4 linked regions of the Homo sapiens genome follow. The protein of the gene in region 3 purifies or fractionates together with the protein of the main gene of each other region. This does not show direct contact. Each region holds a gene or a part of one and is shown on either strand. Other genes may lie near its edges. The genes, in order: GOLM1, STX12, SLC7A1 and GHITM.

Region 1 (7,436 bases), on a different chromosome or scaffold from region 3:
CTTACCCTAATTACATACTTTGCCATATAAGATAATATTTAAAGGTTCTGGGGATTAGAGCATGGATATATCTTTGGCAGGGGGCAACTGTTCAGCTTATGACAGATATTTAGGATTGAAAAGTCAGGGAGAAATAGTTCTCCAAAAAATGATGATGTTGGTACCTGAGAAAGGAAATAATGGATACTGAAAGCAAACACAGCAAGATATTTACAGCAAATACTTTTTAGTCTGTTCAATTCAATTTATTTCATGCAGTTTACCCTTGAACAATCTACGGGTTAGGGACACCCCCATCTCTGCACAGTTGGAAATCTGCATTTAACTTTGATTCCCCCAAAACTTAACTACTGATAGCCTACTGTTGACTGGTAGCCTTACTGATAACATAAACAGTTAACACATATTTTGCATGTTATATGTATTATAAACTGTATTCTTACAATAAGGTAAGCTAGAGAAAAGAAGGCAGCATTTAAGAGCAATGAACTAGGATATCTAGCAGAAGAAATGTCTAAGCAGTAAAGCATTCAAGGTGTTGCATGGATTGTTTTGGCTGCTTACAGTAAAATTAGAGAAGAAATAAATGATTAAAAGATGAAATTTATAACTAAAAAGGAAGCAGAAAAAAATTTTGAAAATTTTCAGCCTGGCCAAGAGTGCAAAGGCATGTTTGGGAGAGCCTCATAAAGATGTAAGTCCTTGTAGGGATATAGTCCAGTGGACCCCTTGCTAAAGAGATTACCATGGCTAGAAAGGAGTCAGGTGCTATTCATCAAGACAAGAAAGACCCCAATGGCATTTCAGAGATTTTTTAGGTTGCCCCTTCCATCACAGGCCCAGAGCAGGACCTTGAAGGCAAGGTTTCCAGAGACGTGGCCACAGGACCTCAGCATTTGCTACCAGGCACTGCCTCAAGTATCTGCTCCCCGCTTTCCAGCACAGCACTCCACAGCTGTTGCAGCTGTGTGGCTCAAGTGGGCCCAGCTGTGGCTTAGGCTACTGTTCTAGAGGGTGTAAGTGGTGGGCCTTGGCGGCATCCATGTGGTGCTAATTCTGAAGGTACACAGAGTTCATGAGCTATGGGGCTATGGCAGCCTCCACCTAGATTCCAAAGAATGTACTGGACAGCCTGGGGATACAGGCAGAAACTTGCCGTAGGGGCAGAACTGCCACAGAGATTCCCTACCAGGGAAATGCCTAGTGGAGCCATGGAAGCAAAGCCATAGCAGGGAACCACCACTAGGACAATGACCAATGGAACTGTGGGGTTGGGGCTGTCCCAGAGCCCCCAGAACTGTAGAGCTACCAGTGTGCAACACAGCTTGGAAGAGCTTTAGACATGAGACTACAAACCATGAGGTTCTGTGACATGACTACACCCAGCCAAGTTATACAGATGGGGCAGCCCAAGACCTTGGGGGTCCAACTCCCACCCTAGTATGCTTAGAAGGTGAGATATAGTCAAGAAAGGCTATTCTGAGGCTTTGGGATTTAATGTTATTTTTTCCCTGTTGGGTTTTGGACTTACTTGGGACCAGTTACCCCTTTATCTTACATATTTCTCCCTTTGGGAATGTGAATACCTATACTGTGCCTGTGCCACCATTGTATTTTGGAAGTAAATAATTTGTTTTAATTTCACAGGCTCATTGCTGGAGGAATTTGTCTTAGGATGAATTGTGCCTTGAATCTTGCTCATATCTGATTTAGATGAGACTCTGGACTTTCTAGTTGGTGCTAGAGTGAAGACCTTAGGGCTGCCAGGTGCAGTGGCTCATGACTGTAGTCCCACCACTCTCGAAGGCTGAGGCAGGTGGATTGCTTGAGCCCAGGAGTTTGAGACCAGCCTGGGCCACATGTCAAAACCTCATCTCTACAAAAAATACCAAAAAAATTAGCTGAGCATGATGGCATACACCTGTAGTCCCAGTTACTCAGGAGGCTGAGGTGGGAGAATCACCTGAGCCCAGGAGGTTGAGGCTGTAGTGAGCCATGATCACACCACTGCACTTCTGCCGGGGGGACAGAGTGAAACCCTGTCTCAAAATAAATAAATAAATAAATAAATATTAAAGCCTTTAGGGCTGTTGGGATGGAATAAATGTATTTTGTATGTGAGAAGGATATGAACTGGGGGTGGTGGGGGGCATAGAAGCAGAATGCTATGGTTTGAATGTGTGCTCCATAAAGCACGTGTTGAAAACTGAATCTCCAGTGCAACAGTGTTGGGAGGTGGGGCCCAAAGGGAGGTGTTTAGGTCATAAAGGCTCCACTCTTATAAATAAATTAATGCCAATTATAGAGGGTTTGAGGCTGCAAGTTCAATTTCACATACACCCTCTTGCCCTTCTGCCTTCCACCACAGGCTGATGCAGCAAGAAGGCCCTTGCAAGATGCCAGCACCTTGATATTAGACTTCCTAGCCTTCAGAACTATGAGAAATACATTTCTTTTCTTTATAAATTACTGAGTCTGTGGAATTGTGTTATAGCAACACAAAATGGACTAAGACATTAAGGAAAGGATGCTTAACAGGCAAAACATGGATGCTTCCTTCAACCAACCACTGTAGCCCCTTGCACATTGTTTAATCAAAACCCATCCAATTGAATTTTCAGGGCCAGCAACTGATTAGCTTTTTTATAAGGAATGTAAATTATGTATATAGATATATATAAAACTGCATCTTAAAATTTTCAACTTTTGTCATAAAGAATCTAACGAAAAGGACTAATTCATCTTCAATTAAAATATAGCTCATTCAGCCAGCTGCCTTAGCACCTAGACATATGGACCTGTTCCATAAAGTGTTTAAGAATCACTGAGTGAGTCGCTAATTAGTTGCTGATAAATGAGAGACTAATGGAGACCCTCCTTAGAGCCAAATGATATAGAAGTTACAGTCCACCAGTCTAAGAATGTAAACTATACTAAGAGAGCTAAAATGGGCAAGAAAGGGAATTTCCTGTACCTGTCCCCGATTATGGTTATTTAAGCTCACTAGAAGATCAAAGTGACACAACTTAAGTCTGCAAAACCAGGGCTGACATCTGATACAGCCTCAGCTTCTGAATGCTTTGGTCTGACCCTACAACAGTTTAACAGTTGCAGATAACAAAAATATCATTTTGGAATATAGTAGAACATTCCTCTAAAGGGGTCATGTATGGTCAGCTTCTAATTCAGCTAAGAGGTTTTAGCTGGTAAAGATACGTTTCCTGCAGTTAAGAAGCTCCATGCTCAGGTAGCAATAGGGTATCTTGATCACCTTTTTTAAGGTGACTCTTTGTTCTGGTTAAAATCAATTTCAGCTGTGAGCATTCCTTTAGGTGTTCATGTATTTACTTGTTTTTTTATTGTGATTTGAGAGAGGCGCAGAGGAAGGAGTTTCCTTTCCCAGACACCAGAGCTAGGAAGACATGAAGACATGATTCTAGGAAAACTGTTCTCAATCTTGGCCGTATACTGTATTAGGATTATCTGGGAAGCTCAAAACAAACAAAAAATATCAAGTTCACTTTGAACTCTGGAAGTGGGACCCTGGTTCCTAAATGCTCTAAAAGCTCCCCAAATAATTCTAATGGATGGCAGGTGCTGCCAGAGTTAAGAACCATTGCTTTAGAATTTTCTAGCATGGTTTCCCTGTAGGTCACTAGTTTTGTGGCATTCTCTCCGGGAGGTACGGCCTCATAGGGCTTCTCAAACATCAGTGCGCCTGAGCGTCATCTGAGGCGCTGTTTCAAATGCAGCTGCCCGGGCTATAAGATCACACCCGAAGGCGTCCGGGAATCTTCACTTTTTCCGTTGCTAGCAGTGGAAGGGTCACAGACCAAACACTAAGGCCTGAGCGGTGACAACCGAGGCGAGATGATGGTCAACAGGGAATGCCTCGTGGGAGAAAAAAGACAATTTTGTGAGTATAAGCCCCCTAAAAACCTGTTTTTCGTTCGCTTCCTTCTCTGGGCAGTTTTGACCCGACGACTTTTATAAAGAAGGTAACGTGAGTGTGGCGCTGGGTGCGGTTGGCTGTTCGGGAACATTCCCTCGGGGCGGAACGTGGGATGGGGGCTCCCCCCAGGTACCCTTTCCCCACAGCCGCTTCCCCGCTCCGCGTCGCTGCTCAGGCGCCAGCTCCCGCGTCGGAAGGGGCGATGGGGTGGCCCGGGGGAAGGGGCAACGCCCAGCGGCGAGAACTGGGCGCACGCTGGCGTTCCTGCTCCCGCCGAGGGGCGGCCACCGGCCGGGGCGCGCGCACCGTGGGGCCGGGAGTCCGCGCGGCCCCGGCAGCCCCTGCCTCGCTTCTCCGCGCTCGCGGCGCCGCCTCCTCCCTTCGCGCCGCCGGCGCTGCTCGGGGGCGGGGCCTTGCCGCTGCGGAGGCCGGAGACGCGGCGGCGCTGGACGCGGAGGCGCTGGGCGCACGGCGCGGAGCCGGCCGGAGCTCGAGGCCGGCGGCGGCGGGAGAGCGACCCGGGCGGCCTCGTAGCGGGGCCCCGGATCCCCGAGTGGCGGCCGGAGCCTCGAAAAGAGGTGAGTGGGCGGCGCGCGGCCCCAGGCTGCCCGAACCGCGGTCCATCGCTTCCTCCCTCCTTTGCCCAGGGCCCGTACCCCGCGCGCCGAGACCTCGCGTCGGTCCCCGGAGCCTCCCCGCGGCTTGCGCCGGGGCTGCAACCTTCGCTGGCTGCGCTCGGGGCTGGCTCCGCACCTTCCTGCACCGAGTAGCCCGCGGCTGCCTGGGCCCCTCGGCTCGCTCCCCAAGACCGGGCGCGCGGCCCCCTTGCCCTGCGATGAGGGGCCTCGCGAGGATTCCCTGCCCTGCAGTCTCAGGCGATGCGGGGCCTGTCTTTTTGTTCTGAGCTTTGTCACGCGCGTCGGCATCCAAAGTCAAAAGCGTGCACCCCCTAAGTCGCACTAGTTCCAGTTCTGCAGCGTGATTTGCACCAGGCGCGGGAGGCTGGCCGAGCCGCGAGTCTCTCGGCTCCCGCCGCCTCTTCCTCCCCTCCAGCCCCAGGCGCGCTCCGGCCGCCCTGGGGTCCACGTTGCCGCTGGGCCTCGTGGCTGGTGACCCCGGAGCTTGGGCTCCGGGTCCTCCCGCCGCGCGTCCAGAGCGCGGCTGCATCCCGTTCTCGTGGATGCTCGGGGTTTTCTCGCATACCTGTGTTTCCACCTTTGCCAACGTGGAGGATCCACACAACTTTGCCCTGCTGTAAAAATCATATCCCATTTAATATTTTTAATGATTTGCTTTTAAGAAACAAAATGTGAAGAATAACAATTTTGATGAAATTTTTTAGCAAAATTTAAGAATTATTATATTTGAAATACCATGATGATGCTGGACAATTTCAGATGTCCCATAGCCAGATTTGCAAAACTAAACTTGTGTGACTTTCACGATTTTGAGGTTTTCTTTGTCTGATTTGGGGTCCCTAGGCCCTACATTATGCACATTATTGAGGAACATTTCTAGGGCTGGATTAGTGAGATACACAATAACCTGATGAAGTATTTAGCAGCGCTTGAGTGGCTTTGTTTAGCTCATGGCCATCAGGTTGGCTCAAATCTCAGTTTTAGTATTTCTGAATTTTGGAGGGCATGGGACAATCTCTTGTCAGTTTTTGTGGGTCTCCAAAGGCATCCTAGCTTCTTCCAGTTGTGTTATAAAAGATGAAGCTAAGCTCATTACTTTCTTTCTTAATAGAAACTAGTAACTTGCTAAGACTTACTGTTTTTAGGCCAGACACTCAATTCTTAAGGTGTCAGTGAACAAAAATTGAATTGTTAGGATGGTTAAAGAAAAGAGGTTAGCTTTTAAGATACATTTTGTTCTCCTATGGAGAGGTTATCCAATTTTCACATTTTTTTTTAAAGTTGGTTTTACAGGAAAACGAAAGAAATGAGAGGAAAGTAGTGCTGAGGGTGGGGCCAGGAAATTGTGGTGACTTGGATATTAAGGGCCAGGGATACCATCTGCTTTCTAATGGCTGGTTTAGGTCCAGTTATTGATGGGAAATGAAAAGATTTTGCATTTACATTCCACCCGCTGTTGTTGTTGTTGTTGAGGGCTGGGCAGAAACAACAGTTAGGACAGCTGACCATAGCAGGCCCAGGGCTACCCGGGTTTATATATATATGGCCACCTTCCCCAGGAAGGAGGGAACTGCTACCCTTATCCTGTGAAAGTGCGAGCTGGCTTTCTGCATTGGAAGTACAGAGGGCAGAACCTGGGGAAAATGCGTCTGCGTGGATCAGTAGGAAGGGTGGAGCATCACTTTAGGCAGGTGTGCTGAGAAGAAGACAGGTGTCAGTTGATGGGCACTATTGGTGGGAGGGAGCTTGAAGGCAGCGTGGTCCCTGAGGTCCAGCCGCCTTTCTCAAAGGACCTGGGGTGGCCATTGGGGGCGGGGGAGCGGTGTTCTGTGCCTTTGGCTTAAATTCTGCAGCATTATTGTTATTACTTGTTTTTTCTTGAAATAAAAAAAAAATAAGTTGCCCTATGAAAAAAGATACATTTCTTTTTCAGTGACGTAATGTGAGAAATAACATTTGTAATTGGGATTTTTTAAAAGCACTTCTGTTTTTGTAAAACAAAACAATTTTTTAAACATTTGTAAAAAAGTAGAAGGAACAGAAGGAATGGTGCTACTATGCTTTTGCTCTCACCTTAGAAAAGGGCGAATGATATTTCACTTGCTCCCCAAAAACTGTTCTTAAAGATCATGGTGGTTTTCTGGACTTCTCACGTTATTGATGAAGTTACATTAAAAGAGAGACTTGTCTCCAAATTTATGAAGTGTTTCTTAAATTTCCAGAGAGTCTTTCCTTTCTTTCACACAGATATTTCTCACACTTTCAGGAAAAAAAAAAAAAAAAGTCCATGCCTTCTCAGATTTTTACATTTTGGTCTTATTTTCCTTTAAAACCCTTAAGCACTTTATTAGTAGGACTTCCCTTGCTAAGATTTTGAAGATTAGTGCCTGACAGAAAAAAGTACATATATAAATACTATATAATATGATTATAGTTGTTTATATTGTAATTTGCTATCGTTTCCCAACTTTTTTGATGTTTCTTAGTAATAAAAAAACTTTTTTAACACTCTTCTGTATGTGCATTTGTTGCTTATTTATAAACTACATGTATTTGCTGTTATGGTTATATTGTGTCTCAAGGCCCAATATACACATAGGGCTGGATTTGTTAACAACATTAGAGGTAGAAACCCTGTTTTAAATACTCTTTCTCTTAATTTTAAGTATTTTGGGCCTGTGTCTTGTCAGATCTGATTACATCAGCATAGTTTCTACTTCATGAGGTATCTCATGCAAGGCTGACTCAGTATAGAGCTTTGCCAGCCACGGTATTTTGCTGTCCTGTGTTTGCATTTATTAGTGGAATAAACAGACCTCTGACTTGGTAGGTCTGGGGTCGGCCAC
Region 2 (7,563 bases), on a different chromosome or scaffold from region 3:
GTGAGCCACCACGCCCAGCTTCGGGCAGTTCTTTATAGCAGAGTGAGAACAGACTAATACAGGTCCTTAGTAATTTTTTTTTTTTTTAAGATTCAAGAAGATAACTTAATGATATTTTTTTTTGAGACGGAATTTCACTCTTTTTGCCCAGGCTGGAGTGCAATGGTGCAATCTCGGCTCACTGCAACCTCCACCTCCCAGGTTCAAGTGATTCTCCTGCCTCAGCCTCCCAAGTAGCTGGGATTACAGGCATGCGCCACCATGCGCGGCTAATTTTGTATTTTTTAATAGAGACAGGGTTTCTCCATGTTGGCCAGGCTGGTCTTGAACTCCTGACCTCAGGTGATCCACCCGCCTCGGCCTCCCAAAGTGCTGGGATTACAGGCATGAGCCACTGCGCCCGGCCACAGAATTTAATGATTTTTAAGAGTGTAATGGGTTCCTGAGATTAAAAAGTTTGACAACTTTTGTTCTATTGAGTTGTATCTTTCTTTTTCATATTGATTCATGGGAATTCTGGGGTTTTTTTTGTTTTGTTTTTTGTTTTTTGAGATACAATCTTGTTGTGTCGCCCAGGCTGGAGCACAGGGGCACAATCTCAGCTCACTGCAACCTCTGTCTCCCTGGTTCAAGCGATTCTCCTGCCTCAGCCTCCAGAGTAGCTGGGATTACAGGCACGCGCTACCACGCCCAGCTAATTTTGTATTTTTAGTAGAGACAGGGTTTCACCATGTTGGCCAGGCTGGTCTTGAACTCCTGACCTCGTGATCTGCCCACCTTGGCCTCCCAAAGTGCTGGGATTACAGGTGTGAGCCACCACGCCTGGCCGAATTCTTTATATATTCTAAATGCTAGTCCTTTGCTATTAAATATATATAGCAATGTCTTCTCCCTGTGACTAGTCTTTTCACATCTTTACCACTTTTTTTGTTCTTCATTTCTTTCTGCTTTTCAGACTTTCCATCTGAGATCACTTTCCTTCCATCTGAAATACATTATTTAGAATTTCCTTCAATAAGATGTGCTGACAGAAAACTCTCTTTTGATTGAAAATGTCTTTAATTAGCCCTCATTCTGACATATATTTTCACTGGGTTTAGAATCCTAGGTAGGCAGTTATTGTCCTTCATCAACATTCAAGATAGCACTCTACTGGCTTCCACTGTTGTTGAGAAGTCAACTGTCAATCTAACTATTGTATCTTTGAAGGTATTCTAATGTTTCTCTAGCTATCTTTATGATTTTTCTCTTTGTCTCTGGTCTGAAGTTTGTCTTTGATGTATCTAGATTAGAGATTTTATTTATCCTGCTTGGGATTTGTTAGGCTTCTTGAAACTGCAGGCTAGTGTTTTTAATCAGTTCTAGAATATTATCACTCATTATTTCTTCAAATATCACCTCTGTTCTATGTTTGCCCTATTCTCACTCTATAACTCCAGTTAAAACTACGTTAGATCTTTTCTCTCCATTCTCCATTTTTCATAATCTTTCTTCCGTATTTAACCTCTTAACCCCCTATGCTACATGCTGGATAATATATTCTAACCAATTTTTTAGTTAAACCACCCATCCACTAAGTTTTTAAATTTCTATATTATATCTTTCCATTTTAGAAATTCTTTTGACACTTTTTCAAATCTTTGTGTAGTTTCCTGCAGAGGTTTTCAGCCTTTTATGTCTTTAAACACAATAAGTATAGTTGTCTTATAATTCTAATATAAAAAGTCTTTGTAGGTATATTTCACTTCATTGTTGTTTCTACTAATTCTTGTTCAGAGTAATTTGTTTCTTTGCACACATGGTTATTTTTAGTGACTGGTACTTACTGCCCTAGAAAAATTATTTGAGAGTATTATTTCAGGGCTAGGATAAAGGTGTCTTTCTACAGAAGGAATTTGTGTTTGCTTCTATCCCACACATAGGTGGCTCTCCCAGTCCAGGACCACTGAACCATTCAGGTAGGATGAATTTGAGCAGAAAATCTGCCTGAAGAAGGTTACTTTGTGGTAACCTTGTCTAGATTTCTCCTCCCTCCTGCCCTCCTCCTCCATCTGCTCAGTTCAGTGCTAATGCAATCTTTCTGTAATCTGCCGGGGGATAGAAGAGCTTACTTTTGACTTAATGTTCTAAGGATATAGTCTCTTAGGGCCCAGTTTAATTTGAGTTGTACCTTCTTTTATATTCTCTCTCTTGCATGGACCTTTGGCTTTGACTTTTATCCTCCCCATGCCATGAGGATATCAAAACTGAAGTTCAAGTTTGCCTTCAGTAAAGACATTCAATGCAAAAGCAGTTTCAGTATTCTGCTGACCTCTCAGGCTTTACCTTAATATTTTCATAATCTTTGATACTTTTGAGAAGTTGGATTTTTAAAATCCAGTATTTGAAAATCCTTTTCAAAAACAGAGGGCTAGTCCAAATAAACTAGCCTGTTATATTCCAGGAAACAGATTCATTATTTTTATTTTCAAGTTTTTAACGTTAAAACCAATATATCAAAATGAAAAAGAAAATTAGACATAGTTCTTCCTCCTATATCTCTTAACCTTCATTCAGATTCCTTTCTAGGCTTTGATCACATGCATATATGTTTTTTACATAGGTTACACCAACCTGCCATTTTCACAGCAGCTAACTTACATGTTTATTGGTCAAAGAGAAAAAGAAAAAAACCCACAAACTTGGAAAAGAACATTCTGATATTGCAAAGGTCTTCTTTTGGGAATCAACTTACAGAAAGACGAGATCCAGCTCTTGCTCTGGCAATACTCTCCTTTTCCTTTTCAGATACCCTTCTCTGCACAGCCTGGAAATTGTTTAAGGCTGCAGAGAAGTCATTCATGAGGCGTTCCTTCTGAAGTCTCTGCTGGCGCTAAGGAAATCAAGCAAGAACTTGAGATTTCATATTAACCCAGAATCATTTGGTTTTAATTTCCCTTAAAAGTAAAATTATACCCCTTAAAGATTTCCAACTAGGAAAATTATTATGAAATAGTCTCTTCTTTAAATTAATAAATTTGCTCTTTGCTAGCTCAAGTCCCTGGTTAATACTATAGACCAAGTCAGAATTTTTCTTCTTTCATTCTGACAAACCTGGAACTGGGTTGCATTTAACTTCTTCTTCTTTTTTTTTTTTTCTTTTTATTGAGACGGAGTCTTGCTCTGTCGCCCAGGCTGGAGCGCAGTGGCATGATCTCAGCTCACTGCCAACCTCTGCCGCCCGTGTTCAAGCGATTCTTGTGCCTCAGCCTCCTGAGGAGCTGGGATTACAGGCACCCACCACCATACCTGGCTAATTTTTTATTGTATTTTTAGTACAGATGGGGTTTCGCCATGTTGGCCGGGCTATTGTAGAACTCCTCACCTCAGGTGATCTGCCCGCCTCGGCCTCCCAAAGTGCTGGGATTACAGGCGTGAGTCACTGTGCCCAGCCTGTATTTAACTTCTAAAGTAATCTCCAAAGAACTGCAATTCAGAATTTTGGTGCCCTGGAGAATATAAAAGAGAATAAATACCTCTGGACTCCAGTTGAATCCAAACAGAGATGGGTTTTAGCTAAAATGTTAAAACCCTATTCATCTATATTGAATTCACAGCTTCCCTGTAAACTATAGAAGCATTTCACAGGCTTTTAGTGGTTTAAAATCTTTGAGACTTGGTAAGTACTTCATTTATCTACAGACTACCTCTACTAAGCTTGTTACTTCTATGTCTCAAAAAACATATGCTGAGGTTGAGCACAGTGGCTTATGCCTATAGTCCTAGTATTTTGGGAGGCTGAGGCAGGAGGATCACTTGAGCCTAGGAGTTCAAGACCAGCCTGAGCAACATGACAAAATCCTATCTCTACAAAAAATAAAAAAATTAGCCGGGCGTGGTGGTACACATCAGCTACTCAGAGGCTGGGGCAGGAGGATCATTTGACCCTGGAAGGTTGAGGCTGCAGTGAGTTGAAATCATGCCATGTACTCCAGCCTCAGCAATAGAGTGAAACTCTGTCTGAAAAAACAAAACAAAACACACACACACACACACACACACACACACACACACACACACACCACATACTGACAGCATTGTCCTGTTCTATGAACACAGAAGTAAAAACTCACCCCTGACCTCAAACAGCTGTCTATTTGTAAATAAAGGATATAGACAGACAAGTAACAAAGTTATTATAAATAACTGCTATATCCAATTGGTACTACAGGAGTTCAGAGGGCAGGAATAATCAGTAAGAACTCAAGCGGCCAAGAAAGGCCTCAAGAGAAGGTGGACAGTGAAGTAAGAGGAAGGCATGAATAAGCAGAAAGAAGGGGTAAGGCAAATCCAAGCAAGAGAATAGTGTGAGCAAAGGCATGGTGGCAGAACTTGAAGAGGATCTCTAGACAGACTGTTTGGTTGGAACTACACGTTTAGTAATGAGAGTAGCTAAAATACAAAATTGGAAAGTTAAGAAAGGGGCCAACCACAGCAGGTTTTAAATGCCAAGCTAGGCCGGGCGCAGTAGCGCATGCCTGTAATCCCAGCACTTTGGAAGGCAAGGTGGGTGGATCACTTGAGGGCAGGAATTATTCAAGACCGTCCTGGCCAACATGGTGAAACCCCATCACTACTAAAAATAGAAAAAATTACCTAGACATGGTGGCAGGCACCTGTAATCCCAGCTACTTGAGAGGCTGAGGCAGGAGAATTGCTTGAACCAGGAGGTGGAGGTTGCAGTGAGCTGAGATCGTGCCATTGCACTCCAGCCTGGGCAACACATGTGAAACTCCGTCTCAAAAAACAAAACAAAACGCCAAGCTATTGGGAGGATGAGGCAGGCAGATCACGAGGCCAGGAGATGGAGACCATCTGGCTAACATGGTGAAACCATGTCTCTACTAAAAATACAAAAAATTAGCCAGGCGTGGTGGCGTGCGCCTGTAGTCCTTTGCCACTTGGGAGGCTGAGGCAGGAGAACTGCTTAAACCTGGAAGGTGGAGGTTGCAGTGAGCTGAGATCGCGCCACTGCACTCCAGACTGAGCAAAAGAGCCAGGTTCTGTCTCAAAAAAAAAAACAAAAAAAAAAACAAGCTAATGAGTTTGGGGTTCAACCTCTAAAGAACAAAGAGCAATGAAGATTTTTGAGCAAGAAACATCATGGGTACAAAATAGTAACTTAGAAAAATTAGTCTGTGATGAGACCTGGGTCACCGTTTACACAAAGGTGGAATGGAAAAAAGAAACAAGTCAAACAGAACACTAATTCAATAGTCTAGGTTTAAGGTTAGGAGGACACAGTATCAGTAATAAAATCATAAAGAAATGAATTTAAGAAACATTTTGACTGGTGGTGGGGAAAGAGAGATAAAGTCAAGAATGACTGAAATTTCAAACCTGGAAGAGTGATGGTAATACTAAAAGCAAATTTAGATGAGCAACCCTTTTCTTCTGAGATTTTTATTTTTGCATAAACAAAATTATAACAATAACGGGGAGGACATCATTCCCTAACCTTACCGTGCAAAAATATTATCATAACTTTTAAATACATCATAAACATTTTCCATGTTACCATACTCTTCACAATTATGTTTTTGTTTTTTTTTTTTTTGAGACAGGGTCTTGCTCTGTCACCCAAGCTGGGGTGCAGTGGTGTGATCTCAGCTCACTGCAGCCCCAACCTCCCAGACTCAAATGATCCTCTCACCTCAGCCACCTGAGTAGCTGGGACTACAGATGTGTACCACGATGCCTGGCTAATTTTTTTTTTTTTTTTTTTTTTTTGAGACGGAGTCTCGCTCTGTCGTCCAGTCTGGAGTGCAGTGGCACGAGTTTTTTTTTTTTTCTTTTTTTGAGATGGAGTCTCGCTCTGTCACCCAGGCTGCAGTGCAGTGGCGCGATTTTTTTTTTTTTTTTTTTTGAGAGGGAGTCTCGCTCTGTCACCCCGGCTGGAGTGCAATGGCACAATCTCAGCTCACTGCAACCTCCGCCTCCTGGGTTCAAGCAATTCTCCTGCCTCAGTCTCCCGAGTAGTTGGGATTATAGGTGGCCACCATCACGCCTGGCTAATTTTTGTATTTTTAGTAGAGATGGGGTTTTGCCATGTTGGTCAGGCTGGTCTCAAACTCCTGACCTCAGGTGATCCGCCCACCTCGGCCTCCCAAAGTGCTGGGATTATAGGCATGAGCCACCGTGCCTGGCTAATTTTTGTAGAGATGTTGCCCGGGCTGGGTCTCAAACTCCTGTACTCAAGCAATCCACCCGCCTCAGCCTCCCAAAGTTCTGGGATTACAGGTGTGAACCACTGTGCCCGGCCATGATCTTTAATCGCTTACATATATTCCATCAAGTTGACCTAAATTTTATGTAAATAATCCTTCTAGATTTTTCACAGTTATTAAATATTATAAAGTAAGCCCCAATGTAATGGCTAATATTTATATAGTGCTTAAATTGTACCAGTACTACTGTAAGTGCTTTACATAATAATTCATTTATCTATACAATGACCTATAAATTAGGCATTATTATAGTCCCAACTTTACACATCAGAAAACCAAAGCACCACAGAGGCTATGTAATTTGCCCAGGATCACACAGTAAGTGACAAAGATGGATTTAAATCCAGGAAATTTGGCTCCAGAGTATATAGACTCTGTGTGTGTGTGTGTGTGTGTGTGTGTGTGTGTTTACCTTCAGAATTTTTTTTCCCCTTAGGGCTAATTAGCATGAGTGAGAATATTAGGTCAAAAGGCACAAACTTTTCTGTGATGTTAAGTATTGTCAATGAACTTAGTTAAGGGGTTTGGGAGAAACATGAGAAACTCAGTATAAGACAAGTTTTATATGAAGGTAGTTTATTTCAGGAGGAGATGTCAGAACATGAATTGAAGATATGGGCCACGCACTTAGAGGTGAAGGGGTTAGATTGGAAAAAGATCTGAGGTCATGATCATAAAGGTGAAAGGGAGGTCATAAAAGCAGGTGACTCCTAAGGAGAAAGCATACAGTGAAATAATTCGAGGATCAATGGCACAACCTTGGGGCATGCCCACTCTTAGGAGGATATGAAGTCCGGGAAGGAGGCTGACTCAACCTGGGGATCTCCAGAGTTGGGGGACACAATGAAAGAGAATCATGGCAAGAAGAAAGTTTCAGGGCAGACGGGATAGGCAAGAGGATCAAAGGAAACAGAAAAAAAGTGAATAGGCCAGGCATGGTAGCTCACACCTGCAATCCCAGAACTTTGGAAGGCCGAGGCAGGCGGATCACTTGAGGTCAGGAATTCAAGACCAACCTGGCCAACGTGGCAAAACCCTGTCTCTGCTAATAATACAAAAATTAGCGTGGTGGTGTGCGTCTGTAGTCCCTGCTACTTGGGAGTCTGAGGCAGGAGAATTGCTCGAACCTGGGAGACAAAGGTTGCAGTGAGCCTTTGCTCACTGGAGTGCAGATCATGCCACTGATCTGGTTGGAGTGCAGATCACGCCACTGCACTCCAGCCTGGGTGACACAGTGAAACTGTGTCTCAAAAAAAAAAAGTGAATAAAAACTCTTTATGGCCAGGTGCGGTGGCTC
Region 3 (7,563 bases):
ACTTTAGTGGCCTCCCTTTCTGTTTTGCCATAATCTGCCTCCTCCCCCACTCCCATACCCATCTACAAAGCAGCCTTGAAAATAACCACCCCTGTGGTTCAGTGTGGGTCATGATCTGTCAATCCAGGCTTAGTACATTTCCAAATGGAATTACCAGAAGGATGGGCATCAAACTGGGAAAATGATTTGGTGGCTTGCTAGCCGTGTTCCTTTTTCTCCCAAGGCATTCGTTCAGATGTGCAGTGTTGGCAGACCCAGGGGATGCCATTTACCTGGCCCACTGGTCGAGATTTGGTCATCCCAGGAACTTGGGCTTCAGAAAAGATGTTTCTGGGCTTTGGACCAGATTCTGGCTGGTCTGTGGTTTGCCCCTCCTGCCACACCCAGTGGCTTTCATTGGGCTTTTTTCCTCTAGTTATTGTCAGGAACAGTGGGGAATGGCAGGTATTGCATTTGGTGAACACACTGGATAACTGGAATCAGAGCCGTGTGACTGAGGGAAGAGGCCTTCACAGCTTCAATGCAGAATGGGATGATTATCTGCCCTGAAACGAAGGATGCTTCTTTGAGGGGAGTTGGGACCAATACTGGGAACAGCACCGCTCCTGGCTTCTCTGGCTTTGCTTCTCTCTGAAGTAATTTAGACTTCGTGAACCTTACATACTGGCTCCATCTGTATATTGGGAGAGCCTGTCCCTCTCAGCCTCACAGTAGTGAAGTTAGGAAGCATGGAGTCCACAGTGTTCTTTGAAAGAATCAAGGCACCAAGTCCATGCATTTACATTTCTCTCTTGAGATCAGTCCTTTTGTTAGCAGCCTGCAATTCTGACCACGGCAACCAAAAATTTCTGACCGTGGCAACCAAAAATCAAGCGCGAGGAAACCTGGGGGTTTATTTGGAGGTGGGAGAGGATGTCCCTTCTTCTGGTAGGACTATGTCTGGCTACATTGTCTTTCCATTTTTTTCTGATTGTCCCCTTGCCCCCCTCCCTTTTCTGGGGGCACAGAGGGCATGGCAATTTTGTTTCCTAGCTTTCCATATTCCTACTGCAGTGCTTTCTTCAGAATACTTGTTCAGATCGGATTCTTGGCTGTGAGGGCAACCAGCTGCTTTCCTGTTTCTTTAAAAGTGGATCCCACACTGCCGTGTCCTGCACAGTGAGTTCTGCATTGTAGAAACCATCTAGCAGTGGTGACTCAGGGAGTGGCCTCTGCTCGGTATGGGGCCTCTGCAACATGAGGTTATGGGGCTTCTACGCTGTGGGGTCAAAGGAGACATCATGATCCCTACTGGCAGAAAGAGCAGAGCCCCAGAGTGGGTTCCACTTACGGGGTCAGTGTCTTTTCTGAGATATTCCTCAGAACCACATTTAAATTCTTTTTCATATTGTTTGCATAATAATTGCCTTCTAGTGCCTACTTTATAGGACTGAGAGGATTTAAATGAGATAATCCATGTTATGGATTTAACACAGCCTCTGGCACAAGTCTAAATGTTGCATGTAAGTGTTAACTATTATACTGGAAAGAAGGCTCAGTTCCTTGATTTAGGTGTGGGAGAAAAATATATATATATTTTGAGATAGGGTCACACTCTGTCACCCAGGCTGGAGTGCAGTGGTGCAGTCACAGCTTGTATTAGCCTCCACCTCCTGGGATCAAGCGATCCTCCCACCTCAGCCTCTGAGGTACCTGGAACCATAGGTGTGTACCACCACACCCGGCTAATTTTTATTTTTTATTTTTTGGTAGAGAAGGGATCTCATTATGTTGCCCAGGCTGGTCTCAAACTCCTGGCCTCAAGTGATCCACCTGCCTCGCCTCCCTAAAGTGCTAGGTTTATGGTCGTGAGCCACTTAGCCTAGCCCTGAGAAAAATAATTTTTACAACAACTTAATTTCGCTCTCTCATTTTACCAAGGCATTAAAATGTTGTGCTCTTTCCTTGGGTGGGTTTCTAAATTAGAAGGGGCAGACATAGTCCCAGGGTGCTGGAGGAGGGATGCGGGCCTCTGAGGCATCTGCTGACAGGTTCACCATCCCATCTGGTCCCAGGTCTGAGGGAAGGAACAATAGTCTCTGGGCTGTTTTGGCTCTGACTGCCTGGATGGACTTGAAGCCATCTCTCTTTGGAATCCTGATGTCTCCCTGAGCATGGGGTGCAGGTTTGCTTAGGACTCAGACCCATGCACCTTGCGCTCAGTGACTTCTAGGACTCCTGGGAAACAGAGCTCTCAGCCCCTTTCTTAGTGTTTGCTGTGTGTGGGTATGTGTATGTTTATGTGTATGTGTATGTGTATGTGTATATGTATGTGTGTGTGTTTGGTGGGGGGCAGGACGGGAGTGACTGCCCTGGCTACAGTCATCCCAAACATGTTGTTCAAATTACTCCGAAGCCCTTGGGTTTTAGAAAAAGCAAAGCTGAAAAGCTGAAACTCTGGGCCGTGTTTCCCACCTCACTCATCCCGTGCTTGGGTCTGTAGGATAGGATGTCTCCATACAGCACAGGGGTGGTGGGCGACACCCACCTGGGGGCAGCAGTGAGAAGGCAGGGGCTCATCCTCCCCACAAAGTGGCTGGAGTTGATCTGTTATGGACGTGTTCGAAGTGTCCTTCTCTGCATCTTGTCTGCTTACTGAGTGCCATTAGCCAAAGTCTGTTAGGCCAAGTAGGAAGGAAGGGAGGGGCCCTGGGGCTAGGTAAGATCAATCATTGCAAGCACTTATTTAGTGCTCACCATGTACTCTGCGCTTTATCTATGTTTCATTTGAATCTTCCTAACCACCCAGTGGGATCGGCCCTTCTGGTGTGACTGATGGGGAGAGGGGAAGGCAGGTGGCCCACGGGCACACAGGTAGGCAGTCAGTGGCAGAGTGAAGATTGGAACCCAGATGTCTGCCTGTACCTGGACTCCAGCCTGTCTCGGGATAGGCCTGGCCTGGCCTGCCCTGTGTACACTGAGTGGGAGGCAGACAGATCTGAAGCCCATCTGCCTGCGTCCCTCTGTTTCTGGCTGAGTCCAGGTGGTGCTGGCACCGGTCACCCGCCCCAACGCTGGAGGGCACCCTGCCTCCCCTCTCTTTGCCCTGATTTCCCTCTGCTGTCTCTGAAAGTGGGTCTTCCCCCTCCCAAGTCCAGGCACCTGGCACAGCTGGAGCCCTGGGGTCCTTGGGGCAGCTGCGCTGGGACGTGGCCAGTGTCAGGAGCCGGTGTGTGTGACGGAGGCTGGGCTGCATTCTTTCTGGGTCAGTAGTTTGGCATTTACATCACCAGCCTTTGGCTGGATGCAATGCCTCCTGCCCAGACCACAATGGAGCCTTGTTTGATTTATCACCATCCAGCCACGCCCACACTCCACCTCCATCTCCACCTGGGGAGACCCCTTTGCAGGGGGTCTTGTGGAAATCAGAGACTGTTCGTAGGGGAAAGTCAGCTTCCTTTTCTGTGTTCCATCCTTCTTAAGGCCAGTGGCCGCTGTCATCCTGCCCTTGGCTTGGCTTTGCTGATTTCTACAATATCTTGCGGAGGTGCCCCCTTTCCTTAGAGGATGCATCTTTAACACTCTCAGAGAGGCTGGGGCAGGAGCTGTCCACACCAGGGCCTGCAGCAAGGGCCCGTCTTCCCCAAAGTGACTTGGGAGAGTCTTCCTGGCCCGCAGCTTTTCCACAGTGTCAGGGACACCTCCTGCCCTCCCTTGGGATGAGGCCTGGTCTAGGAGCTGGGGGCGTTAGGGTGCAGTTTCTGGGACCCAGTGAAGGCCCCTGGGAAAGACTGGCAGTTAGAGTTAGGAGAACTCTTCCCTCATCCCTTTTGCCCTTCTCCTTTTCCCCTTTTCTTTTTCAGCAGTTTTTGGATAACATTTCAAACTTAAAGAAAAGTTGCAGAGGCCAGGCATGGTGGCTCACGCCTGTAATCCCAGCACTTTGGGAGGCTGAGGCAAACAGATCACTTGAGGCCAGGAGTTTGAGACCAGCCCTGGCCAACATGGTGAAACTCATGTCTACGAAAAATACAAAAGTTAGCCTGGTGTTGGTGGCGCATGCCTATAGTTGCAGCTACTCGGGAGGCTGAGACACAGGAATCACTTGAACCCGGGAGGCGGAGGTTGCAGGGAGCCGAGATCACACCACTGCACTCCAGCCTGGGTAACAGAGTGAGATACTGTCTCAAAAAAAAAAAAAGAAAGAAAAGAAAAGAAAATTTGCAGGAGTGCAAGGAACTCCTGGGTACCGTCTCTCAGATGCACAGGTGGGTTATGTTTTGCCTCCTTCTATTCTCTCTCCACCCCACACAAACTCACATGCACACAGACACATACATTTTTTTCTGAACCATTTGAGAGTCAGCTGAAGACGTCATGCCATTTTATTTGCCCTCTATACTTCAGTGTATATTTCCTAAGAACAAGGCTCTTCTCTCACATAACCATGGTACAATAGCAAAGTCAGGAAATTTAACATTAATACAACCCTGCGATCTAGGCCACAGTCCATATTTGACTTGCAGTCGTCCACATAATGTCCTTTATAGCTAAGTATTTTTGGGGAAGGAGTTTTGCAGTGTGGGGGTTCTTTCAAAAGAGGTGTGATTTTCTACCTCATAAGCCTTTTTAAGAAAAAGTGTTTCTAAAAGTTAGAATGTTTGTTGTGGAAAATTTGGAAACTACAGAAAATTAAAAGAAGGAGAAAATAAAACCCATTCATAATTCCAGCTCAGAGGCTGAGTGATCGACCAGAAAGGTGGTGGAAAGACTTTCTCAGCTCCTTCAGCTCTGGTGACCTGGCCACACAGACTCGTGATCCCTCCACCACCCACACACTAGTCAGGAGCCCCGCAGCCAAGTCCTGGGGCTGTGGGAGGAGCCGGCCCCTGTCTGGAGCTGACGGTCTTTCATGCTCCTGCCCACCCCTTGGGCAGGTGCCCACCGAGCAGGCAGACTTAACCAGCCTTGGTGGTGCCTTTGTGGTGCATATCCTCCAGGTGGGGAAGGGTGGAGATCGTTAATAAATATCCAGAACTTGTTTGAGACTTGAAAAGAAATGTTGCAGGCCCACTCTTGTCTGGTCTATACCCCTTGCTTCCTGGACTTGGCAGAGGTTAAGGATGGGGCCTGGAGCGTGATTGAGGGAAACAGCACTGGCCCCATATCAGTGAGCTCTTGGGTGCTTCATGTGGTTGTTAGACTTGCCTTTTAATGAGCCTCTTGGCCCCTACCAGTGGGCTACGGAAGAAATAAAATGTGAAATTTTACCATGTGAAGTTTGCTGTTTGCCAATGACTGTGCTTCTCAAAAGTTCCTAGGGAAAGGTTTTAAAACTGGTGCAGGTAGTGAAGTTTGGATCTCGCTTCCCTGCTTTGTCCGCTTAGGTGGTCCATTCGCCATAACAGCTGGAACTGAGAGTGGCTCTCCCCTTTCCTGGCCCAGAACGGGTCTTTGCTAAGCGAGTCTGGTTTCTGGAAGGATTTTGTTCTTAGAAGCTACTACGTCATTGTCCTCAGCTCCCCATCATTTGTACCTCAGTTTCCCTGAGCTGTAAGTCTATGTTATGTGTGAAAATGGGCCTCTGAAGGTCATGATCAAAAGCCTTGAGTATTTTTCCATGTGTTTGTTTTTTCTACTCCGGCCCCAGACCCTCTCCTTGAAGGAGCTGGCCTTGAGAGTGACTTCGGTGGGCAGCCGCCCAGACTCCACACACCCTGCTGAGTCCACGTAACGCCCAACCTGGACGGGCCAGAGCTGAAGGGCTACTCTTCAAAGAAACCCTTTGAAGTGCAAACATTTCCTTTCCTGAAAAGAAGGGAAATTGAAATGAAAACGTATTGTTCTGTGCAGACAATGTTCTCTTCGATCAAAGAGGGAGTGGGGCTTATAAAGGGAGATGCACAAATTAGAGCTTGATGTGGCCAGTGGTGTGGATGTGAATATTCATCCCTGTGGAGGAAAATAGTGGGGTCTCTGAGATTTGTAAGATTGTATTTTCCTTTTTTTTCTTCTTTTTCCTTAAGGCTCTGAATCTAGGTCTAACGTTCTATTTAATGATGTCTCTCCTTTGTGTTTTTATCTTGTGGTAAGCATTTGGGAGTGTCTTTCAGTAAATCATGATACCATTTCCATGTTAGAATACTATGTAGCCAGTAAGAATGGCGTTTTCAAAGAACATTTGATTTTGTGGGAGAAACTTTAATGTTAAAAGTGAAACCATCTGGGTGCAATTTCCCATGTTCCGTGTTAGCTTAATGAGATATATGTATTTGCACAGAAAGAAAAGACTGGAAAAATTGGACTTTGTTTTTCTCACTGCAGTGTTTGTGGCACCTAAAATAGTGCTCAAGAAATATTTATTGAATGACTATTCTTATAATTAGTAAAACTGTATTTAAAGGAGGAATGTCTTTGAGCTAATGTTTTGGCAGGTGGATGGGACAATATATTATTTTAAGTTTCTGTTGTAATTTTGCCCTAGCAGCTCAGTTCTGGTAGATTTTGTTCTTTGGCACACATACATACCCCATTTTGCACTTTGGTACAAATTATACTGTGAATGGGTGACTTTGACATTTATATTTTTGGAAGAATCCAGTTCTACTGAAATCAGAGTATCAGATGTTGTCTTTTTCCTAATGTTCCCAGATGGGGTAGAATTACAGCTTCTTCTTACTTACTCTGTAACTAAGGAACCTTTGGGCCAGTTTGTCCTGTCCTGTGGTTGAGAATTTTTGCCTGGTTTGCCCAGGGTTTCTCATCCTTGAGCATCCAAGGCTACCAAGATACACTGTTCATATGTCGTCCTGGTTTCTAATGGATAGTTATCTAAAAATGCAGCTTCCCATTCTTACCTGCACTGTAGGTTAGCTTGGAAGATGTCCATCCCTGGTCTCAGTGGTCTTGTTCAGGGAGGGTGACTGTCACAGCTGTCCTTTCCTCTCTGGTGAGATTGTTTCATTCCTCCTTCAGGCACTTGGGATTCAGAGCCCTGTTGGCTGCCTCTTCTGTACTGTCAGCTTAGCACAGGATTCTGGAAGCCCGGTGCTGGGAAAGCCTTTCTCTGGGCTGTTTGGGATGGGACTACTGGTTACCCGCACACACTGGTACTCACTGGGTGTTCCCGAGGATGGCGGCTTTTAAACTTCTTTGACCGCAGTCTACAATAAGAACTAAATTTACATTGTAATCAAGTACACACACAGAGGCACACATATTGATATATAGATAAAATGAAAATTTTTATGAAACAGTACTCATTTTTACTATCTGTGATACGCTGAGATAATTTTTATTCTTTTCTATTTCATTACAAGAAAAATTCCTCGTGGCAACTTGGAGTTTGCAAAACACACTAGGTTTAGACATATGAGCCACACCTCACCTGCAACTCCACCACATTGTCCTGAATTTCATGTTCACTGCTGGCACTAGGGGATGGGAGTCAATTCTCCATCCAGACCAGTTAGGGCAAAGAAAGTTGAAGAGTCAAGGTTTCTTTTTGTGGTGATTTAGGAGTTTCTGACTGAAGGGGACATTATTCTCTGTGATGATGCCCAAGAAAGTGAGTAGGTTTTCAGG
Region 4 (7,563 bases), on a different chromosome or scaffold from region 3:
TTCATGTTAAGGAAAGATGCTGTTCTTGAGTCCATATCCCAGATGACAAAATATAGCTAATAATGCTTGTAGAATGCATATCTTAAAAATGCTAACAGATTCTCACCCTGGTATTTGGTTAGGATTTAAAATATAACAATTCTAGGTATGTAAATCTATAGTTTGTGAAAGAAACAATTTTTCTGAAATTGAAACTAAGAATAATATAATGAATTACTAACTTCCAAAGGTGGAGCACAGGGAAGGTCTACATTTATTTATTTATTTTTACATTTAGTTTTTTAAGTTGGCTAATAAATTTCCATAGTGAAGTTAGGTATATAGAAAGTACCAAGTTTCTTTAACTAGAGTTTTCTAGTGTAAAGGGATCTTGCATTTTATTTTATTAACGTTCTGTTTTCATGTGGGTGGTACGTGTCTTTGTTTGCATGTGTGTCAGGAATATGCCACCAAAACAAGAATTGGGATCCGGCGTGGGAGAACTGGCCAAGAACTCAAAGAGGCAGCATTGGAACCATCGATGGAAAAAATATTTAAAAGTAGGTGGCTATCTTTAGTTTTTAACCTAGAATCTATGGATATGTTTTAAGAGGTCCATGAACAACTTCCTAAAAATATATGTGTATTTGTGCATTTTCTGGGAAGACCACATTATTATTCTGAGATCTGACGACCCAGAAAAGATTGGTACTTTGCACTGGATTCAGTGGTTATCAATCATATTTCTTCCAGTGGAAATTTTACTTTCCTTTTTTTTAAAGAAAAGGATTATTAATATGCCATGGTCCAAAAGGTATACTCTGTTGAGAAAGTTCATTTTAAGTGTGTAGAATCCTCATTCAAGCATATAATATTTGTGTATGTTTCAGATTAAGAATAAATCACCAACACATAGATGTTAATAAAAGCCTAGCTGTCCAAGAAGAATCCTTTAACTCACTGCTCACATAGGGCCTCAGGAGGGCAGTACTTTAATATATTGCCAGTTTGGTTCAGTTTGGATATCAACTTTGCAAGTTCAGAAACTAGATTGTTAATCATCCTAAAGCTATTCAAAGAATACCACTGCTCCTTAATAATCTTGCAAAATGTCTTTACAGTGGGAGAGAGCCCTAATCAGTATCCTTCAGGTCATTTCTTTCTGATTTGACCCTAGAGACCAAATCATGCAAATTATGTAGTGACAGCCTAGTAATATTCTTAGTAAACGAATTAGACTAAAAGAATAAGATGCCCTTTATGAATACCTCTATTGAGTTAGAGTTGATTAGTTGCCTCTCAGTACCCTAAAACGGGAGCCTCCTCTCACTTGATTCTGCTGCATAAACACTGATTATATTTTCTCTTTTTTCTTGATTTCCACGTAAAGCATCATTTGTGTTAATACCATGCAGTATGGTATGACTGTTAACATTTCCTTCTCATTTTTTACTTTCCATGAATGTCATGTGAATATACTTCAACCTCTTATTAGTAAAATAATAGGTATCACAGAAGTAGCTCCACGTCTACAGGTATACTGCTCCCTCAAATATTGTTGGAGGGAGGTTGAAGATTCACCAAGCCTGATCCTTTCTTTTTTGTACTGATTTTTACACCTTTGTTTCAGGAGTGTTTTTTTCTACTGGTTACCTAACATTGAGGCAATTTCTGTACCCCATATGCACTGATTATGGCTTCTATTAAATATGGTACATGATTTGATTCCCTTGATAAATATTTTAAAGGCTTTGTCCAGATGTGCCAGTACTAACCTGCATTTCCTTCTGTGTTCTGCAGTTGATCAGATGGGAAGATGGTTTGTTGCTGGAGGGGCTGCTGTTGGTCTTGGAGCATTGTGCTACTATGGCTTGGGACTGTCTAATGAGATTGGAGCTATTGAAAAGGCTGTGTAAGTAAATTGTTTTAAGTAAACTGTTCCTAAACAACTCCAGCCTTAAAACAAAAATTCAAATTTTCTTCTCATTCCTATCTTTAGTCACTTTGGAATGTTTTGTGTCTAGTCTTTGTGTATACACACAAATAGAGAATCTCTTTTTGCTTCTTTGACATTTATTTATTCAAATCTAAATAAAAATCTTTTAGCAAGGTTATATGTGTTTAAGCAAAGAGAAAATATGAAATATGTTTTTTGTTTGTTTGTTTGTTTGTTTTTTTGGAGAGAGAGTCTTGCTCTATCTCCCAGGCTGGGGTGCAGTGGCGCGATCTTGGCTCACTGCAACCTCCGCCTCCTGGGTTCAGGCAATTCTCCTGCCTCAGGCTCCTGTAGGTGGGATTACAGGCACATGCCACCATGCCCGGCTATTTTTTGTATTTTTAGTAGAGACGGGGTTTCACCATTTTGGCCAGGCTGGTCTCGATCTCCTGACCTCAGGTGATCCACCCACCTCAGCCTCCCAAAGTGCTGGGATTACAGGCATGAGCCACCGCACCCAGCCAAAAATATGTTGTTTTTTATATGTGCTTGTATGTTTTATCTCATTTAGTCCTTACAGTAACTCCCAAGTATGCATAATTATCATAATTATTTCCATGATAAATGAAGTGAATAAGATTTAAAGTGTAAAATGATTTATCCCGAGGTCGCCCAGCTAGTGTGTGACTCAACCAGAAATCAAATCTGTAATTTCATAGATTAATCATGTCATGTTTCTTACAGAATTTGGCCTCAGTATGTCAAGGATAGAATTCATTCCACCTATATGTACTTAGCAGGGAGTATTGGTTTAACAGCTTTGTCTGCCATAGCAATCAGCAGAACGCCTGTTCTCATGAACTTCATGATGAGAGGCTCTTGGGTGGTAAGTCAGCTGTTTTTGTTTTCCTTTTTCATCTAAAGATCAAAAGATTAGATAAAATATATTGGAGGGAAGGGTTATTAAATGGAAAGAATACTGTATTGAACAAGTTTTTGTTCAAATAATGTATGAATTACAGGTTGAGCATCCCTAATTTAAAATCCAGAAATGCTCCAAAATCCAAAACATTTGTAGTGTCAACATGATGCTCAAAGAAAATTGTAGCATTTCACATGTTGGGTTTTTGAATTAGGGATCCTGAACCCTAACAACAATGAAGTGTAATGATAAATAGTCCGAAATCTGAAGTCTGAAACACTTCTGGTCCCAGACATTTCTGATGAGAGTTACTCAACCTGTATTAGTGCAGCTGAGATAAAAGTAGGAAGTTCATTCTAGGTAGGTCAGCTATTATTCTTTATTAAACATGTATTCGAATAATACCAGAGGAGTTAGAAATCAAACTTACAGAGACAACATTTTTGTCTAGCAGCAGATATCAGACAGCCTCTAATTTGTAGCAGTTTACTAAAAAAATAAAGCAAATGCAAAATCATCTTAGAAGTCAGAGGGAAATGCCTATGCAGTTAAGAGCAGAATAGTGCTGCTACTATTATTCCTAAGATTCTTGACCTTATAGAAGATTTTATATTTAATCGGTTTCTCTGGAGCCCTTGTTATTTTGCTAGATAAGAGAATTTGAATATGTGTCCCCTATTCTCCTGCTATTTGGTAGAAGAGATGAACTGGAATAAGTGGCACAGATACGCAATAAGAAAGTGCAAAGTCAGTTGAGAGTTTCTGTCTTGGACTGTTAGGCAAGTTCCGTGAAGGAGACATTTATTTCATCAGGGTTGTTGAAGGCTAACATGTCTCATTTATTTTAGAAGTAGACAAGAGGGCCAGGTGCAGTGGCTCACACCTGTAATCTCAGCGTTTTAGGAGGCTGAGGCAGGAAGATTGCTTGAGCCCAGGAATTTGAGACCAACCTGAGCAACATAGTGAGACACTGTCTGTAATTTTTAAAGAAATAGAAAATTTTAAAAATTAAAAAAAAATTTTTTTAAGTAGACAAGGGCGGTCCAATTTTACCAAACAGTTTAAGGGAAGAGGAGGTAGGAAAACCTAATTTCAGAGGTGACTTACAATCCCATTAGAGGGAAATTCAAGTGTTTGAGGTCTGGAGGGTAAAGAAGACGTGGTTAGAAAGGATACAGTTGTCAAGCTGAGGAGAGAACCTAAGCAGTCGGAGGCCATTGGAGATACTGGAACAACAAAAGCGTGATTTATATTTGAGTTTTTAGAACCAATGTGGAAGAGACATGGAGCAGGTGTACCAGCTGTGCCTTTGTAAGATCTGAAATGAGGGATGATAAGAACCTGAACTAGAGCAGAGTGTGATACTGGAGGGGAAGGAGAGTTCATGTAACACTGATTCCCCACATAGGGACGAAAACCATATTATTTTCACTGTGTTGTACTTTACTAAAGGATAACCATTTACAGTAGCAGCCATTTGGATATTTATATATTCTTAGGATCATGCTTTTTCACATAGACGTCATGAATCTCCCAGCCCAGAGGTTCACAAAGGCACAGAATGTTTCACTGGGGATGTCAGTTTTAATCAGAAGCAAATAATTTAAAACAATACTTTTGTAATAAACATGACAATATTTACCTAAAATTTTAGGCCCTAAAATGAGGCTTCAAAGAAGTTTTGTGTTTGGGCCATATCCTCAGTCCCTTCTGGGCAAAAGATTACCCTCTTCCACTGTTAGTAATACAGAAAATAGGAAAGCCAAAGACAAGTGTTACAGAGATGAAGATGTAACCTTTTGGGTGTGACAGACATATATATACAAACACACACATAGACACACAGATAATGTCAAAGTTTGTCCCAAGTGCATCTGAGGAGAGGTATCTGATCTTGCTCTTGGGCAGCCAGGGTACCTACTAGAAAAAGCTTTTGAGATGAGACAGTACCAGAGTAAGTCGACCAGATATGGAAGGAGATATTCTTAGGCATGATGGATTGAATTAAGGAGGCCTGAAATTTTGGGGCATGTTGGCAGCTGTGCCAGTTCCGTATGGTTGGAATGCAGAGTTTGGAGTGAGACTGGATCATAGAAGATCTTAAAAAAATTTAATTGCTGCTGTCCACAGAGGATGTGTGAAATAGTTTGTAGTAATTATTTCTCGTTAGAAAATGGTGGAGTGGAGCTCGATATGCTTTTCTTTTCTTTTTAATGTTTTTTAAAAATAGAGACTAGATCTCTATGTTTGCCTAGGCTTGGCTTAAATTCCCAGGCTCAAGTGGTCCTTTCACCTCAGCCACCCAAGTAACTGACATTACAGGTCCATACCACTACACCCAGCTCAGTATGCTTTTTCATGTTAAGGTTTTCCCATTCTTGGCAAAACCAGCTATTTGGTTTACCTGTACTTTATATTAGAGGTTGAATATTTTGATGTTCATAGGTGAGACAGATAATACAGATGAGTGAGGAGGCCTAGTGTGTCACACAGGAGATTGTTGACATCTAGAGGTTACTGACATCTAGAGTTAACCTTTTCAACTAAAACCATTCACCATGTTCTTTTTTTTTGTTTGTTTTTTTAAACATAGTTTGCCAAACAAAACATCTGTGGCCTGATTCCAAGGGCTACAAGTTTGCAATCTCTGATTTAAATTTCTTGGAGATTAGCACCATCTTATTTCCATTACATGTTAATACATTCTTCTTGTCATACACAAGCAATATTTAATTATAACACTGGAAATCTAAGATAGGCAAAGAAAAGGAATGAGGACCAAATTAGCCATAAACCTGGAAGGGTAGAAGTGTAGAATCTTATTTCTCATTTTTCTTTTCCATGTGCTGTGATAATCTACTTTCTATTTTTCAAGTCTTCATTTAGCAAATATGGAGTTCAAAGTGATGTGCTATATATATTTTTTTTAAAAATTACTAATTTGTAAGCATCACTGATTTTAAAGAAAATGCTATTTGTGCTATACAAAAATATATTTTTTAATTAAGAGTTAATTATCTTGGGATCCCTAAAGGGTTTTTGTTTCACCTCTGTCCAACAAGAGTAAAATTGTTAAAAGATGTGTTGCCAGTTCAAGCTTAAGACATGCATTTGAAGCTGTCTGCAAAACCTCATATATGGCAGTAGGGGGCACTCGTGCTAACTTAGCCAAAACTCTGAAATAAACCCAGAGCTTTTAATGTGCCAGAAAAATTAAAGTTTTTATTTTTTATTTTTTATTTTTTATTTTTTTATTTTGAGATGGAGTCTCGCTCTGTCACCCAGGCTAGAGTGCAGTGGCACGATCTTGCCTCATTGCAACCTCCACCTCCCGGGTTCAAGTGATTTTCCCACCTCACTCAGCCTCCCAAGTAGCTGGGACTACAGGCGCGCACCACTGCGCCTGGCTAATTTTTGTATTTGTAGTAGAGACAGGGTTTCACCAGTTAGCCAGGCTGGTCTCAAACTTCTGACCTCAGGTGATCCACCTGCCCCAGCCTCCCAAAGTGCTGGGATTGCAGGCGTGAGCCACCACGCCTGGCCTTAAGCTTTGATTTATTATCTTTAATATTTTTACAACTAGTTTATTAGAAGTAACTAATTGTACTTCAAACCTGTGGGTTTCTGCTTTGTTTTCATATAAAGATCAGTTTTTCTTAATAGTACTTGTCTTTCAGACAATTGGTGTGACCTTTGCAGCCATGGTTGGAGCTGGAATGCTGGTACGATCAATACCATATGACCAGAGCCCAGGCCCAAAGCATCTTGCTTGGTTGCTACATTCTGGTATGTTCTGTTTTAAATTGTTACGAGACAACCTTGACTACCACCTTTTTTGGGTGGCTCTTCACAGTTGTAAATGACCTACATGGAATTTAAGCCTCATGTTTAGAAAACACCATTTTCTTCAGTCATTACTGGCTGCATTATTGCCAGACCTTTGCTTTGAAAAGTTGATTTTGCTAAGACCATGGACATCTTCAATACGAAACTTGTATCTTCTGACAGTCTAGTATATGCAGAGATTTACTTTTGTGTATTTTGTTCGATACCAGGAGGGTTTTATATCTAGTACGCATCATTTGAGAGTTGTTTTTGTCTGGTATGTTTAGAAAAATTAAAAACTGAGGATAGAGAAAGTTGTGCTAAAAATGTTGCTGCGAAATAACAAAAAACTGAGAGGAGTCCTAATAGAAGTGTTCTGTGTAGAAATTTCACCCACTGTTTTGCCTAGAGCAAAAAGTATTTTTAAATTATTCATCATCATGAGATAGTATACCTTATTAACCATATAACTTGATCTAGAAATGTTATTCTTTAAGCTAGTATTGAAAATTCAGTATAAAGATAGCTTTGTGCCTAGTCTATGAGGTAAACGACATTTAAGAAAAAGGTAACTTATTCTTCTTAGCACTGAAATAATGCATTATCTAAGTTTTTTTTCAATTAAGGAGTTCCATTTACCTTTGTTGAATTACTGGTAAATTTTTTACGAAATTGTTTATAAATATCTGACAACTAAAATTACTTATTTATAAGCTGTTAGCAGTCCTTATTACATAAAGAAACAGCAGTGTCTGTCTTAGAAGTTCCCACATTTTAAGTTTATCATCATATGCTTTCCCTTTTGACAGCAGTAGGTTTGACCTTGAGTTATTTGTTTTAAGCTTGTTTATCTCAATTATTATATGAATGTTGTAGAAACTAGTGGTAAGCTCAGATTCAA

Evidence for each region.
Region 1: the proteins of SLC7A1 (region 3) and GOLM1 purify together in Homo sapiens (affinity purification with mass spectrometry; 3 studies listed by BioGRID and IntAct, with this or other methods). This does not show direct contact.
Region 2: the proteins of SLC7A1 (region 3) and STX12 purify together in Homo sapiens (co-immunoprecipitation; 4 studies listed by BioGRID and IntAct, with this or other methods). This does not show direct contact.
Region 4: the proteins of SLC7A1 (region 3) and GHITM purify together in Homo sapiens (affinity purification with mass spectrometry; 3 studies listed by BioGRID and IntAct, with this or other methods). This does not show direct contact.

What each region holds. Positions count from the first base shown.
Region 1 is NC_000009.12:86,096,505-86,103,940, reverse strand, and holds the start of GOLM1 (Golgi membrane protein 1), read left to right. Parts: upstream 1-4,382; 5' UTR 4,383-4,530; intron 4,531-7,436.
Region 2 is NC_000001.11:27,796,987-27,804,549, reverse strand, and holds part of STX12 (syntaxin-12), read right to left. Parts: intron 2,873-7,563; coding exon 2,735-2,872; intron 1-2,734. UniProt on the Homo sapiens protein: SNARE promoting fusion of transport vesicles with target membranes. Together with SNARE STX6, promotes movement of vesicles from endosomes to the cell membrane, and may therefore function in the endocytic recycling pathway.
Region 3 is NC_000013.11:29,585,126-29,592,688, reverse strand, and holds part of SLC7A1 (high affinity cationic amino acid transporter 1), read left to right. Parts: intron 1-5,896; exon of another isoform or gene 5,897-5,964; intron 5,965-7,563. UniProt on the Homo sapiens protein: High-affinity, low capacity permease involved in the transport of the cationic amino acids (arginine, lysine and ornithine) in non-hepatic tissues.
Region 4 is NC_000010.11:84,142,216-84,149,778, forward strand, and holds part of GHITM (growth hormone-inducible transmembrane protein), read left to right. Parts: intron 1-439; coding exon 440-539; intron 540-1,779; coding exon 1,780-1,891; intron 1,892-2,659; coding exon 2,660-2,801; intron 2,802-6,514; coding exon 6,515-6,623; intron 6,624-7,563. UniProt on the Homo sapiens protein: Plays an important role in maintenance of mitochondrial morphology and in mediating either calcium or potassium/proton antiport. Mediates proton-dependent calcium efflux from mitochondrion.